Regions from separate parts of the Homo sapiens genome. Here region 1 is reported to be linked to region 2. Evidence: microRNA targets listed by miRTarBase, many of them from high-throughput screens and not tested one by one. Region 2 holds a microRNA gene; the other region holds the end of a gene's coding sequence.
What was found. The annotated mature microRNA hsa-miR-548g-3p reads AAAACUGUAAUUACUUUUGUAC and lies in region 2 at 1,186-1,207, opposite strand. An mRNA with a match to its seed (bases 2 to 7 or 8) in the 3' UTR can be bound and repressed. Matches are read on the target gene's strand: a 7mer-m8 pairs with bases 2 to 8, a 7mer-A1 pairs with bases 2 to 7 and ends in A, and an 8mer does both.

Region 1: the mRNA of RPS16 is a reported target of hsa-miR-548g-3p. Seed matches in the 3' UTR shown: 7mer-m8 at 655-661.

What each region holds. Positions count from the first base shown.
Region 1 is chr19:39,430,482-39,433,892 of GRCh38, reverse strand. RPS16 (ribosomal protein S16) reads left to right here. Exons shown (of 5, transcript NM_001020.6): 3 at 132-228; 4 at 324-371; 5 at 475-756. The coding sequence ends at 620. Among named protein-coding and RNA genes, the nearest start is that of RPS16, 3.8 kb to the left of the region's middle. RefSeq lists an enhancer at 2,330-2,449.
Region 2 is chrX:32,640,301-32,643,711 of GRCh38, forward strand. It overlaps MIR548F5 (microRNA 548f-5), which reads right to left and starts at 1,259; the gene lies at 1,174-1,259. All of the region lies in intron 11 of DMD (dystrophin), which reads right to left.

The sequences.
Region 1 (3,411 bases), not on the chromosome of region 2:
GACACCCTGACCCCCATCCACTAGTACTTGAAGGCCAGTGGTGGCAGAAGCCACAGAAACAAGAAGCCCAGTGAGATGGCTAAGCTGCCCAGCATGTAACTTAAATCCCTGTTCATTCCCCATTCCTTTAGCTGCTGGAGCCAGTTCTGCTTCTCGGCAAGGAGCGATTTGCTGGTGTAGACATCCGTGTCCGTGTAAAGGGTGGTGGTCACGTGGCCCAGATTTATGGTGAGTCCCAGGAACTGGGCGCATGGAGGAGGTGGCTCTGGGAGGGAGGCCTTCACAGCGCTCCTGTACCCTTTAATTGTGTGTCTTTCTCACAGCTATCCGTCAGTCCATCTCCAAAGCCCTGGTGGCCTATTACCAGAAATGTGAGTGAGCATGGGTCCTTCCCATGAGGTAGATGGGTGTGTGGGGATCAAGTCAAGGACTCTGTGTGATTATCTAAATCCTCGTCCCTGCTCTTCTTGCCAGATGTGGATGAGGCTTCCAAGAAGGAGATCAAAGACATCCTCATCCAGTATGACCGGACCCTGCTGGTAGCTGACCCTCGTCGCTGCGAGTCCAAAAAGTTTGGAGGCCCTGGTGCCCGCGCTCGCTACCAGAAATCCTACCGATAAGCCCATCGTGACTCAAAACTCACTTGTATAATAAACAGTTTTTGAGGGATTTTAAAGTTTCAAGAACTGTGTGTGGCCTTATGTGTTGGTATTGGATGTTTAACCAGACAGAAATCAGTAAACATCCTGGACCTATTGCCAGTCTGGATTTTGACCCTCCCCAGAAGTGGTCGCGCTGGGCTTGGTGTGGGTGAGTGGAAGCAGAAGGCAGGGGGTCTCTGTCTCTACACCTCCAGTAGAGTCCAGTGTGCAGGCAAAGCTGAGATGGCAGTCGTTTGGGGCCATTAGTGGCTGCAGACCTTGGCGGATATATGGCTCATCCTTGTGGATGTCTATTTTTTTCAAGCCCAGCCTCCCAAATAGCTTGGATTACAGGTACCCACCACCACGCCATGCTAATTTTGTATTTTTAGTATCGATGGGTTTCACTGTGTTGGTCAGGCTGGTCTCAAACTCCTGACCTCAAGTGATCCGCCTTCCCGGGCCTCCCAAAGTGCTGGGATTACAGGCGAGAGCCACCACCCCCAGCTGAATTTTTGTTTTTGTAGAGACAGGTCTCACTATGTTGCCCAGGCGTGGTCTCCTGACCTCAGGCAATCCTCCTGCCTCATCTTCCCAATGTGTCCAGGTTACAGGTGTGAGCTACCATGCCTAGCCAATAATCTTTAATACAAAGAAAACAAGGAGAGTCGGGCACGGTGGCTCACGACTGTAATCCCATCACTCTGAGAGGCCAAGGCTGGTGGATTACAAGGTCAGGAGTTAAAGATCAGCCTGGCCAAGATGGTGAAACCTCATCTCTATTAAAAGTACAAAAATTAGGTATGGTGGCAGGCGCCTGTAATCCAGCTACTTGGGAGGCTGAAGGAAAGAATTGCTTGAACAGGCGCCTGCCACACCCAGCTAATTTTTTTTTTTTTAAGTAGAGACAGGGTTTCAACATGTTGGCAAGGTTGGTCTTGAAATCCTGACCTCAAGTGATCACCCGACTCTGCCTCCTAAAGCGCTGGGATTATAGGCGTGAGCCACTGCACCCAGCCTAATTTTTGTATTTTTAGTAGAGATGGGGTTTCACCATGTTGGCAAGGCTGGTCTTGAACTCCTAACCTCAAGTGATCCTCCTGCCACAGCCTCCCAAAGTGCTGGGATTACAGGCATGAGCCACCATGCCGAGCCCAAAGTGGCATTTTGGACAGGTAACCGGGCTGTGGAAGACCCCAGGTTCTTTTTTTTTCTTTTTCTTTTTTTTGAGACAGAGTTTTGCTCTTGTATCCCTGGCTGGAGTGCAATGGCGTGATCTCGGCTCACCGCAACCTCCGCCTCCCGGGTTCAAGCAATTCTCCTGTCTCAGCCTCCCGAGTAGCTGGGATTACAGGCGCCTGCCACCTTGCCCAGCTAATTGTTCTATTTTTAGTAGAGACGGTTTCACCACGTTGGCCAGGCTGGTCTGGAACTCCTGACCTCAGGTAATCTACCCGCCATGGCCTCCCAAAGTGCTGGGATTACAAGTGTGAGCCGCCACACCTGCCCCCCCCCCCCCGCCTTTTTTTTTTTTGGAGACGGAGTCTTGCTCTGTCACCCAGGCTGGAGTGTAGCTGCACAATCTCAGCTCACTGCAACCTCCGCCTTCCGGGTTCAAGCAATTCTGCCTCAGCCTCCTGAGTAGCTGGGACTACAGGCAAGTGCCACCACACCTGACTGATTTTTGTATTTTTAGTAGAGACGTGGGTTTCACTATGTTATCCAGGCTGATCTTGAACTCCTGACCTCAGGTAGATCCCCCTGCCTTGGCCTCTCGAAGTGCTGGGATTAACAGGCGTGAGCCACCGCGCCCGACCTAGAGCCCAGGTTCTTGACTACTAGTTTAGGTTGTCACAGATCTGCTCAAGAGGCCCCATCTCTACCCTGTGGCCCCTCAACATGAGGAGCTAAGGAGTCAGGGTGGCCGCTTGTGGGAAAAGCACAAGAGGCTGTGGGACTCAAGCGGTGCCTGACAGCCTGGAGGAGTCAGGTGGACTCCTTGGGGGAGAGGACATGGGAACCAGGGTCTGCTGGCCGGTAGGAAGAGTAGCCAGGGAGACCATGTCTGTGATGAGTTGTTTTCGGGTGTCTGTGGCCTCAACTTGCTCATTCACTTTCCTTGAACACCTGTGCCGGGCCATGTGCTCGTCATGGGGCACTGAGTGACCACAGCCCTCTTCCCCCTCCCAAGGAGTCACAAATGACGCAAGGGTTGCTGCCGGTGCTGGAAGAGGAGTTGGGCTTCAAAGCACAGTGCATCCTCAGCGTTTTGTATAGGTGCTTGGAAACGGACTTAAGCAAAACAAGCAGATCCTGTAATAACAGTCCTTTAAACAAACTGGTTTCCTTATACGTCGTTTCGCTTAAGGTCACGGTTTCCCAGAACCTATTGATGACGTTAAGTGAGGACTTCGTTGAGTGGCTAATGACTCATAGGAAGCGAGTGAACTTCATTGTTTGGGGAGCGCAGAGATTTCTACTTCCTAGTTCCAGCCTCTGCAGCCAATAGGGAAGTCCCGCACCTAAATGCTCAGGGGGAATGTTTTACAACTTGAGATTTTCTGTCCACTTGCCCACTTTCTATGTATCTACCCTAGTTAATACAGTAGCCAGTGCTCAGAAGCCATGTATGGCTACCAAGCGGGGCTGCACATATTAGAACATTTCCGTCATCAAGGAAGGTTATATGGGACAGCACTGACACAGGATACATAAAATGAGTCGGGGGCTGGGCCCAGTGGCTCACGCCTGTAATCCCAGCACTTTGGGA
Region 2 (3,411 bases):
AGCCTCATGACACTATTGCTGTTTTACAAAACTATAAAGTAGAGAACAGAAAAGAAAAGTATATTGCCCCAGTTCACATAAATAAGTGTTTGAGAAAGCAAGCCCTTATTCCTTAGGCAAACTGGAGAGGATTTTATGTAAGGCAGAAATCAGGGCACGCTATTATCTTTGTATTTTTAATATTTCTTGTTTTGCATAATTGTTGATGGTTTATGGGATAAATATTATTTCCTAGATGCAACTTGAATAATAGTAACTGTGGGCACAAATTGAAGCAGTCTATTTCCAAAGGAAAAAGCACTTTTACTGTCAAAAGGAAAAAAAAATAGGAACTAAAACTAAACAGAGAAGTGGTTTTTAAAATAACTAAATGGCTAAGATAGTAAAGTATACTTTTATCACAACTACCAGCTGGTCTAAGACACTACTGTGTCTTAACTGGCCAACTTCACTGGCCTAATAACTGTCCTCTCTTCCTCCAGTGGCCTTCCTGATAGGTTTTCTTGACCTATCTCTCACCTACATAAAATCTGATGGCTTTGTCTTGCACTTAGTCTAGAATTCAAAGCCCTTATTCAAAGCCCTGACTGACACTACAATATGTAATCAGTCTCCTACCTATATTTCAACCCCATCTCAGACCTCAGCCATCTAACTTACCACCCTGCAACTCTACAGTCCCCCTGGCCTTTTGGTTCCTCCAGCAAGCCAAACTGTCCCTATTTTTGGGCCTTTGCATTAGCTGTTCCTAATCCGTGAACCACACTTCCTTGTGATCTGCAAATAGTGGTACCTTCTTGTCATTCAAATCTCAAACTAAATGGTACCAACCTTCAAAGTCTTACCTGGATCACAAAGTCTAAAGTAGCCTCCCCTCAACCATTCTCTATCACATTACATTTTAATCTCTTCAAAAACTATATTCCTATCCGGTATTTTTCTTGTGTTCTTTTTTTTCTTGGCTGCCAGCCTCTACAGAATATGTTTCATGAGATCTGGGGCCAGACCTTGTATGATCATTATTGAGTCTCCAGTGCCATTAATTGTTTTTGATAATGTATTCCATTAATATTTGTTCATATAGAGAGATATATGTGTATTTTATACGTATATATATATATATATATATATATATATCTCACAATGACTATATATCAAATATAATTTGATGTTGCTATTAGGTTGGTACAAAAGTAATTACAGTTTTTCCCATTACTTACAATGGAAAAAAACATGATTACTTTTGCAGCAACCTAATAGTAAGTATGTTGGTAGATAGGATTAATAATTGCTAAGTGTAAATGTTCATAGATTTTAGTGATAAGCTTATCTGTATTTACAAGAAGTTTTTAACTTTTGTTATATCAACTTAGAAATTATAGCATAGCTTTGGATATACTTAATATGACTAGACAAATGTTAATTATCATTTCTCTAATCGCTAAACCAAGGCTTAGGCAGGAAATAATGGCTTCCGACTGGATCTATCCAAACCCTGTCTTAGGTAGAGAGAGAAAAGAAGTATCGATGAATCCATTTTTGTTTACTAGTAATCTTCTACTCTGAAGTAATCATATATTTAGAAAAAAAATAGGTAATGCTCCAAGTTGAAGCTAATCATTGGAGATAATCCATTCTCATGACCATGATAATGGAAACTGAACAGGTTATAATTTATTTGAAGCATTAAGTAAAACCTAGATTAGTTTTTTAAAAATAATGACAATACCCTCTTTTCATAATCACGTTTTTTGTTTCCTCTCACAAAATCTTTCAAAAATCAGGTTCAGCAAAGCTTACATAATGGCTTATCACATTAGAATTTAATAGGTTTTATGCACGAACACATACATAGTCAAAGTGGCAAGGAAGACTGTTATTTATAAACTCTCATATTATTTCTGAATTTGTGTTGCTCAAATAATGCTTTGTATATTCATTTTTAAGGAATTTTCCAGAAAAGTCTATGTGATAGAAGTGGTTACATGTACGTGTCTCATTTTAAAAACTCTGTGAGATGTTTTAGCAAAAGCTATACCAGCTAGAAGGCTCTCCTTGCCTTCTTAATAATTATTCTAAAAGCTGTAACACGTACAAAAGCTCTTGAATCTTCCCTAAGGACAAACTAATTTTTTATGTCAATCTCAGCTAGGTGGTAATACTGCCATTTTAGCATTTCCATTCTCTAGTGGGATGGGGATGAGGAAATTACACGCACAGAAGTCTAGGTGTCTGTCATCCTTCACTTAATGGCAGACATCCCTTGAAGGGGGGAATTTTTGAATGAACATCTTTTTAAATGTTAGAATCACAGATAAAAGACTTTTTTTATGTTTCAGATAAGCAAAGAAAAAGTTGCAATTTTAATTCCAGGAGGAATTCATATTTTCTTGCAACTCAATTTCACACAGCAATTAATTAACTGATTAGTATGAATAATTAATGCCATATTGTTAGTTTTATTGAAAATGGGGAGTGTAAGAAAAATGAGAGCATTTAGCCTCCAGGAGAGGATGGAAACCTAGAGTGCACAAAGGAGAAGACACTGGTGGCTATTATGGCAAGGACAGTAAAGAGGTGGTTGGATTTTCAAAACTTTCTAATTTTGTTTGAGGTTGCTTTAAGTTCCACAGATCACTGCAAATAGAAGTTCTAACCTGAAGAATGTTGGCATATGACCACAGAAGGCAGCTTATATCTTAATATCGATAATAGATGGAGTAAATTAGTGGACCTGGTAAACACTGGGGAGTGGGCAGACTCAACAGTTATAATATGATTATTGTACCTCTCACATCTAGGGGTAGTGACAATCATCACCACGATCACAGCAGGCGAATAATATCAATATGCATAGATTAGTATCTCCTGGCTTGGAATACATATATAGTTATGAAACCTCTATCTTACATGTACCTTATTTATTCTTTCAAAAGGCCTGAGCTTAAAAATGTGTTTTTCCCCTCCATAATTTCACACTATAATTTAGTACTGGAATACCAATCCTTCTAGCATATCTAATGAGTTTCCTTGGTCCTTTTTTTTTTTTAACGCTTTTGAACTTCATAAATAATAGTTAAATAAACTTAAGGCATTTGGACAATTTTTTTCACTTAATGTATTCAAATCCACAGTTGGCACTTCATTTCTTTTCATTTAAAAATAAATCTATCTTGTCTTGATAGGCTTTACATGAATATACACACCTAACAATATAAATCAAAACACATATCCAGAATGATGAGATCTGCTTGTTACCTTTATAAGAAATATGTCATTTTTCAGAAATGTCTCAAATCCTCTTTTTTATTAAGTCAATATATATTCTTAAGATAATTCATAGCCATACTGTATTTTAATAAGAATTTCCCAAAACGTTTGAATAATGTTTTTCAAGAGGATTTCCATATA